Regions from separate parts of the Homo sapiens genome. Here all the other regions are linked to region 2. Evidence: fine-mapped expression QTL. A gene starts in region 2. Each other region holds a variant in brackets. All regions are shown on one strand. Distances are from middle to middle. Region 1 overlaps BOC (BOC cell adhesion associated, oncogene regulated). Region 2 holds the start of BOC (BOC cell adhesion associated, oncogene regulated). Region 3 overlaps NEPRO-AS1 (NEPRO antisense RNA 1).

Evidence for each region. PIP is the estimated chance that this variant, and not a neighbour inherited with it, causes the effect.
Region 1: its variant is the best candidate, but not a certain one, in a credible set for the expression of BOC in sun-exposed skin (GTEx, PIP 0.69).
Region 3: its variant is the best candidate, but not a certain one, in a credible set for the expression of BOC in sun-exposed skin (GTEx, PIP 0.66).

The regions. Positions count from the first base shown.
Region 1 is chr3:113,246,008-113,250,248 of GRCh38, forward strand. It overlaps BOC (BOC cell adhesion associated, oncogene regulated), which reads left to right. Exons shown (of 20, transcript NM_001378074.1): 3 at 3,715-3,892. The coding sequence starts at 3,796. Among named protein-coding and RNA genes, the nearest start is that of BOC, 37 kb to the left of the region's middle. The variant G/C (reference allele first, on the strand shown) is at 1,657.
Region 2 is chr3:113,209,716-113,213,956 of GRCh38, forward strand. It overlaps BOC (BOC cell adhesion associated, oncogene regulated), which reads left to right and starts at 1,842. Exons shown (of 20, transcript NM_001378074.1): 1 at 1,842-2,301. LOC124909486 reads right to left here. Exons shown (of 2, transcript XM_047449436.1): 2 at 1-2,565. The coding sequence ends at 1,840. RefSeq lists an enhancer at 2,203-2,854.
Region 3 is chr3:113,137,766-113,142,006 of GRCh38, forward strand. All of the region lies in intron 1 of NEPRO-AS1 (NEPRO antisense RNA 1), which reads left to right. Among named protein-coding and RNA genes, the nearest start is that of LINC02044, 28 kb to the right of the region's middle. The variant C/G (reference allele first, on the strand shown) is at 1,746.

The DNA.
Region 1 (4,241 bases), 36 kb after region 2:
GACTCTCAGTTGTTTGTAATTTTCTCAAAAAATAAATACTCTGAGGCTACAGTTTCTCAGGATTGGTCTTAACCCCAGAGTGTGTTTTGTTGTTGTTGTTTTTGGAAAGTTTCAAAAACATCTGTTTGGAAGAGATTATTTCAGTGGAGAACATGTGTGTCAGCAGTTAAATGTTTCAGACCCATTTTCTTTCTTTTTTTGTGTGTGTCCAAATAACCCTTTAAACTGTCAAGTACCTAGGCCTCAATGAGGTGTCAAATGATTTTGATATTTTTTTCTTGATTTCTCTGCTTTGTCTCAGAAAATGACTAAGGAAAATAAGAAGGATCTTAGATATATTTTGCATTGCCAAGAAAAATAATAGGCCTTACTGTTGCCTTCACCCAACTTTGAAATTGTACTTTGTTCATTTCACAATGGGACAACGTTACACTGCAATTAGGTTCTCCAGCTTAAGCGTTACTTGCCTTTTTTCCCGAAACATTAAAATAAAGTTCTCAGGTAACTGAAATCTCTAGAATTATCTTTCTAAACCAAACTCACTAGGTAACTTGGTTCAAAAAGTAACTCACTTTCCCCAGATACTAAATAAAATGCATCATTTTATGTATTTATAATTTTATTTATTTATTTATAATCATCATCCAGTGACCAAGCCCCCCAACCTTCCCCAAACATAGCCATATTTTTTGGTCATAGTTCTGCTTTTACATGAATGAGACCCCACGCATCCTGTTTTGGGGTCCTTAAAATGGTACTTCTTACAACTGTGTTGTGGGGCTTAATGGGTTAACTCCTTTCTCCCTCTCTGGATACCTGCACCTTCTCACTCCCTCTCACTCCCAATTCTTTTCTCCTTGTTGTTTTTGAAAGCAGGATGGTGGCTGGCAGCAGCAACAGGATCTGTTTCCATTTTGAACCTTATAAATTACCGAGGGTGCAGAAGTAACAGGAATTGTTTGGCTGGTCCTCGTTAAGCAGGAGAGGGTCTGGGCTGAATTTCCTCAGTAAAATATTTGTTGCTGTTACAACCCAACACCTCCGTAGCCACCGTGTGTTCAGATAAGAAACAACCCTTCCATTCCTCTTTGTCTGCTTGTCCTCTTTTGCCCTTCATTACTTTATGTTCATTTTCTGTCTCCCTACCTCCCTTCTTCCCTTTCTTCCTCCCTCCCTTCCTTCCCTTCTTGGGGCATGGAAGGAACATTTGCTTTCAATTTCCTTAAGGGCCTGGGGAAATTGGGGCATGACTTGAACAAGCTAGTTCCCTAAAATCCCATAACTGGGAACTCATGCAATGATCTATATAAATACCTTATCTCATTGGGGAAAAGCAAATTAGAGAATTAAAGCAAGTATCTGGAAAATTGAGAGGAAACCAAAAGCTTACTTTTTGGTGTAAACTTTCCCTCTAGAAATCACTGTTAAAATGTCCCACTGTTCTACATCAACTCTGTTTGCTAAACACCCACTGGTTTCAGAGCCCTGATAGGAAAAAAAAAAAAAAAAAGGGAAAAAGGCTACTATTGTGATTAAAAAGCACAGAGTTTGGGAATCAGCCTAAACTGGGTTTCAATCCAGGCCTACTGTTATGTGATCCTGGGCAACTTCACTTCTGGAACTCAATTTTCTCTCCTGTAAAATGGGGATATAGTC[G/C]TCACCTTGCAGGGTTGATGAGAAGGTTAAAGGAAATACATTGTGTAAGAGCTTAGCGAGTTCCTGGAGTAGTGGCAGGCACCCCCAGCTTTCCACCACCACAGCCCCTCCCAATTGTACTCACATCCTTTGCAGCTTTCATGAATTTTACTTTGCCAATAATATGACCCTTTGATTTACTGGATTGTTTGAAAAAGAGCAAAAGCTCTCTCTCTACACCAACGGGAAATTATCTTAACTTGCCAGGAAATAACTTTTGAAAAACTTCTTTAAAAATGTTCTTTCAAATCCCTTTTAGAAAACATCCCCTTGTCCTATCCCAGAGTAGTGCTGAAGTCTTGTGAGTCCTCTGATGTCAAAGTCATGAGGCAAAGGGAGAAAATACAAACCATCGGGAAAGAACTCTTGGAAAACATTCTGAGCATCCACAGAATGCTAGGGGCTGGGGTCCTCCATCTGGTTTGGAGGGGTGCTCATTGGGCAGTGTGGATATGGCCCTCCTCACTCCCTCTGCAGCCAGGCAGAAAGCCAAAGGACCACAGGTCTTGGGGAAGGGAAAGGTTTAGGTTAATCCGAAGCACTTCCCAACACAGCAACAGTCCCCTGTGTCAGGCAAGTCGGGTGTCTCCTGTTTCTTACGGCAGTCTCTGCAGGCAGCCTGAACTCTAGGACTGGCCAGCACAACACATCTCTCAGTTGAGAAGCTTAACTACTTCTGAGTTTTAAATGGTGACTGTAAATCTTCGAGAGAGTCTCTGGTTAGGTAGATTGATCTAGAAGAGTTAACATTTTGAATGTATGTCACACTCCTAGAAATATACTATTAATATTGCCACAGGTGAATGATCCACCGTGCAGATCACTGGAATGTTGCCTTCAACGTTATCCGAACTCATTTCAATGCCTCCCTGCCTAATAAGGCTGTTGATACCCCATCCTTATTTGTTAATGTTCTATAAACCCATCAGTGAAAAGCACAGAAGCAAAATCTTTGTTTTGGCTGTGACAGAAGTGTGTGTGTGTGTTAGAATATACACTTGCCCATGTGATTTTGATAAATCTTGTAAGGACCATAGCTTAAGAAAGGCATAAAAAATTGTGCCTTCTGGAACAGGAGATGCTACTGTTCTAGGCAGAGAGGGTGACTGATAGCTGAGGTGTGTTGTCAGATGGCTGGAGGTGCAGTGTGGTCTGAGCCTCAAAGCAATGTTGTTCTGGGTGGAGATACAACTTGGGTAATCAAGAGTGTAGATTTTGTAGAGACGGAAAAGTTCAAAATTTTCTAGCACCGGGAGCAGAGAGAAGTGGGAGCTAGTGAGTGAAGCGAAAACAAGGCTCTGTGCCCTGAGAAAGTGAGGGGTCTTGGCTGGCTTATGACTTTGGGCTGTGTTTGTACCTGTGGGAGTAGATGTTATGGACAAGCTGAGGAGAGCAGGGTGATTGCAGGAATAAAAGGGAGTTTTCAGGGATCTAGGCATAGAGCTGGGGTGAGGAAAATCAGAGCAGGAAATATTTCATGAGTCACTGAGATGCTAGGATTCATTCACTTAGTAGCATTCCCTGCAAGGGCGTTCTGTATGCATCACACACACGGCACTGCTGTCCCACAATAGTCTGCACTAACCACATGGCAGGGCACATGGCTGTGACCAGCTGGCCTTTTGCAAGCAAATGGTAAGAATAATCTCATCTGTTCTAGCATCTGTGCCAGATAGTCACTGTCCTGTGCCATGGATATGGCTGCAGGCCTCAGCCTCTCTGTATCCTCTGCCCCTCCTCCTCGTTGCTGTCCATCCACTGGGCAAGACTCCAGCATTCTTACTACAATAAAATCACCTTCTAGCTAGAGAAAGAGCCCTAGGGGGCAACTTATAAGAAGCTTCTTTTAGATGAGAAATGGCACTATAGTGTTCTTTGGTCTTCCAGCAGCATGACCGGGTCTCTAGTTTGAATGTTGCCAACAGGGAACAAGGGACAAAGCCAAGCCCTGTGGCCACCACAGGTGCACCCCAGGCATCCTCATCATGGCCATTGCTCTCCCTTTCTCTCTTACAACAGAGTGTTGCCAGGGACGGCAGTATCTCTTTGTGTGACCCTGGCGGCTTATGGGACGTTGGCTTCAGACCTTTGTGATACACCATGCTGCGTGGGACGATGACGGCGTGGAGAGGAATGAGGCCTGAGGTCACACTGGCTTGCCTCCTCCTAGCCACAGCAGGCTGCTTTGCTGACTTGAGTGAGTGCTTTCCTTCCCTTTCCCTGCCCTTACAGTCAAATGGAAACATTCCGCATTCTACAATAACTCTTTAAAAAGGCCTTCTTTACCTGGATTTCAAAGAACACTTTATTCCCATTGGCCTTCAGGGACACAAGAACACAAGATGAGACATGATCACAACAACATCATATTGGTTATAGTTTGGTATTTGACTCATTTCAAAGCTATACCGGAGGAGGAGGAGAAGTAATAATAATAACTGCTTTTTATTGTGCACTTACTGTACAGTGTCACGGCAGGCAATTTACACATATCGTTTGCAAGACTCATGACAACCTTGTGAGACAATCAATATTAGCTTCATTTT
Region 2 (4,241 bases):
CACAGAGCTGAAAGTACTCGATAAATCAAAAAGGAAATTGGCTTCTGCCTGAATGACTAAATACCGGAGAAAAAATAGTGCAAAATATGGAATAAAATACATTTATGTTTCCTTTGTAAAGGTCTTTTGGTTCAGATTCAATTAGAGTCCTATACTCAGTGTAAAGTATGTATGTTTACTGACAAGAAACAAGTTAATAAAAAACAAAACAGGGCCGGGTGAGGTGGCTCACGCCTGTAATTTTAGCACTTTGGGAGGCCAAGGTGGGCAGATCACTTGAGGCTAGGTGTTCAAGACCAGCCTGGACAACATGGTGAAACTCCGTCTCTACTAAAAATACAAAAATTAGCCGCGCATGGTGGCAGGTGCTTGTAATCCCAGCTGCTTGGGAGGCTGACACTGGAGAATCTCTCGAATTCAGGAGGCAGACTTTGCAGTGAGCCGAGATTGCACCACTACACTCTAGCCTGGGCGACAGAGTGAGACTCTGTCAAAAAACAAACAAACAAACAAACACACACACACACACACACACACACACACACACACACACACACACACACAAAACCCCCAGAGGCCCAGAAAAGTTAAGTGACTTTCCAAAGTCACAGTGGCTTCCTGACTCCCAGTGCAGCTGTCCAGCCACACAGGGAAGGCAGCACCCCCATTCACCCTACTACTAGCCTGGCTGTCTTATTTCCAGGACAGCTTCCTCACCAGCTTGGCACAAACTCCCAGTTCACTTTAAACAAATGGCTTAGCCCTGCTGGGACTTGGTTTTCTCAGCTGCAATGAAGATACGGAATGGATGACCGCTCACAACCTGTGCTTCATTCCTAAAAAATAAGAAGGGAATCCAATTTGCCACCAACTCAACATTTGCCTTCTCACTGCCCTGGAAAGGTAGTTTTTAAAACGTGGCCCCTGACCTGCAGCATCAGCATCACCTGGGAACCTATTTGAAATGCAAATTCCCAGGTCCACCTACTGAATCAGAAACTCTGGAGGTGGGGCCCAGCAAAGGGATTTAGCAAGCCTTCCAGGGAGTCCTGCTGCAGATCAAGTTTGAGAACCACAGCTCTGAAAGTTTTCTGACCAACACACACGCGCGCGTGCGCGTACACATACACACGCATAGGTAACTAACTTTTCCGTGGCCACTAGCACCCCCAACCCATGCCCCCAACCCCAGCCCCAGCTCTCCCTCCCCATTCCTCCCTGGCTCCATCCTGGGATGATGAATGGAGGTCAGGGCGCTGTCAATGGACGACGCGGCAAACCCTCCCCAACCGACCGAGGGGGTCGGGGGAGGCTGCGTTAAGGCTTCCCTGAGATTGGTTTCCTTATCATTTTCTCCACCGCCGCTGTCCCATTTTCTGATGAGTTTGCTTTTAATGATTTATCCAACAGTTTGTCTTGCAGAAGAAGAAGACCATTGAGAGGTGGGTGTCAGGAAAGTCTTGGAAGAGACTAGGCGAAAGGAGGGAAGGATTGTACATGGAAGAGCAAGGGTGCGAGGTGAAGCTAAAGAGAAAGTGAAGGCTTCAGGGGAGCCCCCTGGGTTCGGGGAAAAGGGAGAAGATGGTGCTTTTGGTATGGGAAAGCAAAAGAAGTTGGAGGAGAGCGCGGGTCTGAGGCACAGCAAAAAGTGGGTGTTAACGGGAAAACTGCCCTAGAGTTTGGGGGACTTTTTCCAGCTTCCTTTCCAAGACTTTTTCTTTGCTCCATTTTGCTCCTCCCCCTCCTCCCAGCCTCCTCCACTCCCTCCTCCTCCTCCTCCTCGCACGGTAATGGGAGGCTCCTAGGCAGGAGAAGCAAAAGAAGGAATTGTTTGCGAGTTCAGTCATCCAAAAAGCTTCTTCCATATGGAGGGACCGGGTGCGCTGGGCGCGGCGTCCCCTGCGTTGTCCTCCTGCTGCCGCCCCCGCGGCCGCCGCTTTCTGCCGCGGGGACCCTGAGCCCCGGCCCGCCGGTGTCAGCCGCCGCGCGCGCGCACAGACACACACACAGAGACACACAAACACACACAGAAAAGACACACACGCGCACACACGGCGCGCACACCCTCACGCCCGCCACAGCCACAACACGCCCGCACGCGCCCTCCCTCTCCGGCCCGCAACTTCTCGGTCCTCGGCTCCTTTGTTGCTCCAGCCGCGGCCGCTCGCCCGTGTTGTGTGTCCCCGGTGTCACCGAGCGTGTTGTGTGTCCGTGCGGCGCGGCGCTGTGTGGCTCCCTCGCGCCCACCACGCTGGCCCCCGGGCCCCGGCTCGCCCTTCCCAGGCGCCGGCTGCAGCAGAGGTGAGTCACGTCGCTGAAGTTTGTTTTCTTTTCATAAAAAGTTGTGTTTACTGTTGGTTCGGGGAGAGGAGGGGGCGGGAGGCGGCCGCAGGCCGAGGCAGCGCCAGCGAGTGGCTGCCGGGGGACGTGCCGGCGGCGGGAGCCGGGTCCCAGCGCTCGGCCGGGCGCCCGGGGCTGGGAGCTGCGGCCGAGGCTGGGCGCGCCGGGCGCCGGGCGAAGAAGTTGGGGCGAGGCGGGCAGCGGGGGTCCCGGGGGCTGCAGCCGCTACGGGGCCCAGGGGCGCCGCATCTCGTTCCCTGCCGCAGCGGTCTGGCCGGGCGATGGTGGTTTCGCCTCAGCGGTTCCCAGAAGCTTCTCGGGTGGAAGAAGGATCCAGCCAGCCTCCCAAACTTCCACCGAAGGTTGACACCAGCGCCCCGGCCCCATGCTCCAGGCCGTGGGGGGAACCCGAGGCGTGGCGGCAAATGCGTAGAGTCACTCAACACGCACTCGGCCTCTTTGGAGGGTGAGGGTTTCTCATAGTTGGCGTCTTCTAAAGGAAAAACACTAAAATGAGGAACTCAGCGGACCGGGAGCGACGCAGCTTGAGGGAAGCATCCCTAGCTGTTGGCGCAGAGGGGCGAGGCTGAAGCCGAGTGGCCCGAGGTGTCTGAGGGGCTGGGGCAAAGGTGAAAGAGGTGTGTGTGTGTGTGAGAGAGAGAGTTCGTGTGTGCGTGTACGTGTGTGCGCGCGCGTGTGTGCGTGTTCGCGCCAGCAGCGTCCTCCTGGGGTTTTTGTTGATGTAACTGTGAGAAGGTGTGGGAAATGAATCTCTGGAACCAGTGGGACGGGGCTGTGGGGAGGGCAGGGAACCCAGGAAGAATTTTCATGGGGGTGTTGAAGGGCCTGCTTGACTTTCAGGATGTTCAGTATTAATTTGCTTTTCCAGGTGATGGGAGAATGCTGAGGGATGAGAGAGGCAGGCAGACCTGAAGGAGTTAATGGAGCCTCGGGGATTTGTTTGGCAGAGTTTTGTTTTGGGGATGGGGGTGGCAGTGCCAGAGTTGCTTGGAACAGAGTTGTGCTCCTCCAGAGATGTGGCAGTAGAGCTAAGAATACCGAAACCACACACCAGCAATCCCAAACTGGCACTTTTTGGGTGTGGTGGGGTGTTCTGCTGCTCCCCTCATCCCTTCTCTGCAAGTTCAAATGGGTTCGCCTAAGTTTTTGACCCAGAGTTACCTCTTTGAGTGGACTGAGTGAAGATTATATTTTGATTTCAGGCCCTTGTGCCACCTGCAGATGCACTGTGCCCAGCACACATTTGTCACCTAGTTCTTTGTTGTCCAGAACTCGGTACACATTGACCATTGGATGAATGTCATTTTAAAACTTCAGTGTGCAGACATTTCTGATTTATTCCACGACTGGGTCTTAAACAGGCAGCCCAGCTCTGTGATGGTTTTTTTCATCCCTTTGGTTACAGCCAATAAATCAATCTTCGTTTTCTTAAGGGCAGCATGGAAAATATTAAACCACAGTCTTGGGCTGCTTGTGGGGGCTAGGATGCCCATACATCTGGGTGACCTGTTTTCTGAACTTAAAGTAAATCTGAGGCAAGAGGTTAGCCATTTTGAGGTGTGTAACAGGTTTCCCAGAAACATTTCTGAGGTCTTATAATTGGTACTTTTTAATGGTCTCATAATTGAGACCCAGAAGCTTCTCGTGGTGATCTGAAAGCACCTTGGGGTCAGTGGGACAGAGGCCGGGCAGAAACAGCAGTAGAGTTATTATTTTCCTGCTATGAGTTTTTCAAATGAGTTTATGCAAAGAGGTAAAATGAAAGAAAGAAGAGTTGCCTCATTGGGCCACTTTGCTGACACTGTCCTCCCCTGTATAGATTTGTCACTCAGAATTTGGGCCTTGAGGAGGCTGGAGGGTGTCTACACATTTATGAAGCC
Region 3 (4,241 bases), 72 kb before region 2:
GTTATTAGTTAAATAATTTCTGCTTTTAGTTTCTACTTTCTTTAGGTTTATTATTATCATTCAGTTCTTTTTATTAATTCTTTGAGTCAGATGTTACTTCTTTCATTATCAGTCTTTTTATTATTCTACATATGGAAGACTATGAATTTTCCTCTGAGCACTGCTTTAAATTGCACTCCTTAGGTTCTAGTATATAGTTATTTCTAAATTAGTTTTTGGCACAGAATTGGATTAATCATCATCCTTAATTTATGTTACACTCTCATCATTGGTAAATGCATAGCCATCTTTTGTTTAGTTCTTCCATTTTTTAACATAATTTTTAAAATATGGGCCCATCACCCAATGCGTCTTGACAATAAACTCCATCTACCTATATTGCCCCTCCCATTCCCTCCCTCTGCTTCTGTCCATACTACTCCTCCAACCACCAGAGATAAAGATCATGCTGAATTCTTTTTCATTTCCTTGCTTTCTTTTTCATATAGCTTCATAGCTTCTATCTTCTATCTTTCCTTAAAACATATTTTTATTTTAAATTTAAACATTTTCTTATTTTCTGAATATTAGGTTTGATTTTGATTTTCTTTATGATCCAAGAGTTGCTTTAAAAAGAGTTTTGGGGTTTTTTTCCCAGATATTAGAATATCTTGTTGTTTTATTATTTTGTTTTATTATTAAGATCGGGCTATATTACATCATGAACAGAAAATGCCTTCTGCACTATTTTTACATTTTGGAATTTCTTGGTGTTTTTCTTTGTGTTAAAATGTGATCACTTGGGATATGCCATAGGATGCTCTGTATCCACCTGTCTGTCTCTCCAATTTTGGGGCCAGTGATTGCCCTGTGGCCTCACTTCTCTGACAGATCTAAGAAGAGTTGCTGATTTTGTATTTTGTTTGGCTTTTTAAATTGTATATATTTAAGGTGTACAACATGATATTTTTATATAACTATACACGGTAAAATGCTTACTCCAGCCAAGCAAATTAACCCACCCATCATCTTCCATAGTTACTTCGTGTGTGTGTGTGTGTGTGTGTGTGTGTGTGTGTGTGTGTTAAGAGCACCTAAAATCTACTCTCTTGGCAAATTTTCAGTCTATGATAAGGTTGTATTTACTGTAGTCCTCATGCTGTATGTTAGATCTCTAGACTTACTAATCCTGCATAACTACAAATTTGTACCCTTTGACCTATTTCTCCCCATTTCCTACCCCTCCCATCCCCTGGTAACCATTGTTTTACTCTCTGTGCTTGGTTTCTTACTTATTATTAGAATGGAATGGTGACTTCTAAGTTCCTTATGTGTCAGACTGGAAACCAGGAGTCTTTACGTCAGTATTTAAAAATCAGTTTAGAGGTGATAAACAGTTCATCCTCTCCAAACATCTCTTAGACAAATCAGCATGGCTCTGAGGTGACAGTTAAGAACCAATTGACACAAGGAAGTTATGCAGGTTACCCAAGGCCATACAGCAGGCTAGAAACTGAGCGGGAATTCTATTTAGCACCTGAACTCCCAGCCTTGTGTGCAGACCACATTGTCTGTAAACAAACTAGCTCCAGCTAAACTAGATAAATATGCCTGAAAATAGTTACTTGTGGATGCCAAACTTGGCCTTTTATGCATAGTCAATAAGCAAAAGAATCCAAAAGTAAGTAGGGCCCTTTGCACACACATGATCATGAGAACCTAGCTCTGAGAGACCACGCCCCAAGGAGTGGAGGACCGGCCATCTT[C/G]GGTGGTGATCATAGTAATTATCCATTACATTTGGATGGCCTCCCTCAGATTTTGAAACACTTTCATGTGATTTATCTCAGAAGTTCTTGCCAGACATCCTAGGAGGCTGATATTTTTTGTTTTGGTTGGTGCTCCAAGGAGACCAGCAACTCAGCACTGGGAGCCTAACCTGCCCTAATGAGCATAAGGAAATGGGCGCAAACCCTGGTTTTTAGATAAACACAAGAAGTGATCTCTGGGGTCAGATTTAAGTGGGCGAGATAGACAGCATTACCTTGACAAGGGGCAAGGTAGAAACAGAGCACAGGTATGGGAACTGTGCACCTCTTGGTTACCAGTATATAGGAGGATCCAGTCTATGATAATCTAACCCCAAGGAGATACCACGACTTTATTATAATTTTTGCATCCTCTGTGTCTAGCTCAGAATGTGGCATGTAGAAAACATCCAGTAGATGCTTGAAGAATGAATGAATGAAGTATTTTCTGCACACCACCGCCAATGTATTACTCTCTGGGGTGAATAAATGTTTACTAACATCTATCAGGTTAAGGGTTAGATGCTTTCAAGTAGATTTCTTAACCTGGAAAACATCATGGTAAAGATAAAAGAGAGGGCCTGTGTTTTCTCTGTTTCTTACCATACCAAGTCTAGGTGCCTATTCCTGATTTTCAAAATTACCCATGGTTGGGCCCAATGCCTACCTCTATAGCCTTTCACCCCACCCACCACTCTCCTGGCGCTCTTACTGTTCATTCTGGCCTTTTCCACCCGTCCTGGTACACTTTTCTTTGTCTCCCTTTCTATCCCAGTCATTTTATTCCAACCTCTTCTATGGAGCCTTCCTTGACTATCTTGGCCCTCAGTGATCAACCATTCTTTTGAATTTTTTTAATCTGGAGAGTTGATATCCATATATTTTGCCCTCAGTTTTCTCCTATGCTATTGAGTTATTTTAGGTACATGTTATGTTTGACTAGTTGGATTATAAATTCTTTAAGAATACGGCTTGTGGCCAGGCGTGATGGCTCACGCCTGTAATCCCAGCACTTTGGGAGACTGAGGCAGGCAGATCACCTGAGGTCAGGAGTTCCAGACCCACCTGGCCAGCACGGTAAAACCCTGTCTCTACTAAAAGTACAAAAATTAGCCAGACATGGTGGTGGGCGCCTGTAATCCCAGCTACGCAGGAGGCTAAGGCAGGAGAATTGCTTGAACCTGGGATGTGGAGGTTGCAGTGAGCTGAGATCGTGCCACTGCACTCCAGCCTGGGTGACAGAGTGAGACTCCAGCAAAAAAAAAAAAAAGAATAGGGGTTGTATTTAGTAGAGAGCCTAGCATAGATCCAGGTACATCATGGGAGATCAATAAGTAGCTTTTCACTGATCAAATGTAAACACATTACTGGAGAAGCTACTTCATTGCTCGGAAACTTCCTGAAACATATGTAGTGTTAGGTATACAATATCCTTGCCCATGCTGAGGTGTTAAAAAAAAGTTCTTCTCAAAGCCAAATGAATCATACTCCTGGTTTCTTCCTGTCTCAGTCATCTTCCCCTTTCACTATTCAGCAGATTAACCTCCGCACAGGGCCTCTGGCCACACACTCTCAGTCTCCTCTGGCCTCCTGCACCATCAGTTCCCTCCAGTCCTCCAGACTCATCAGCTGCCATGATGCTGCCTCTGAGATTTTCCTGCTCACCTACTGCTGAACCACACACCCAACCCTCCTTTGCTACAGTGGTCAGCCAACAACATAGCCAAGAAATTATGGAAGTTTTGTAGAAATTAAACTAAGGCGATGAACAACAGTGGTTAAAAGTAGAAATAAAATTATGTCATTTTGGCAGTCTGCAGACTATCTACTAGAATCCTTCTTCCCCTTCTTCCTGGGCACAGAGCACAGCTATATTTTCTGGTCTTCCTTACAGTGAAGTAAAGCCATGTAACTAAATAACTAAATTCTTTCCAAAGATGTAAGTGGAAGTGTTGTATACCTTCAACAGGTCTGGGTCAATTATTCTGTGTTCTTCCACACTCTTTATGTGTGCTGGGTGACGTGGCCTTAAGGGTCTGTAGAGCCACAGGGTCTAAGAAGCCATGGTCCCTTAACTACCTTGTGAAAGAGAGCTGCGCTTCAGCCAGGAGCACCTCCCTTGAGCAATTATATGAGAAACAAACTTCTATTGTGTTCAAACCATTATACATTTGGCATGTATTTATGACAGCAATTCAGCCTACCCTAACTAGTACATCCATTAAGTGAATGAACAAAGGTACAACTGTTACTCCACCCTTACTTGACTCCAGAGAAGCATATAATTGAGAAGGAAAGAATATTTGCCTAATAACAAAAGGGAAGAAAGCCATAGGTGAATGTGAGTTATATTTGCATAAAATAAGATTGAGAAACTTTGTGCAATGAAGGTTCTTACAGCAAAGACCTGGGTTTTTCATTGTGAACTGTCTCATTGGAACTATTAATTATCCAATG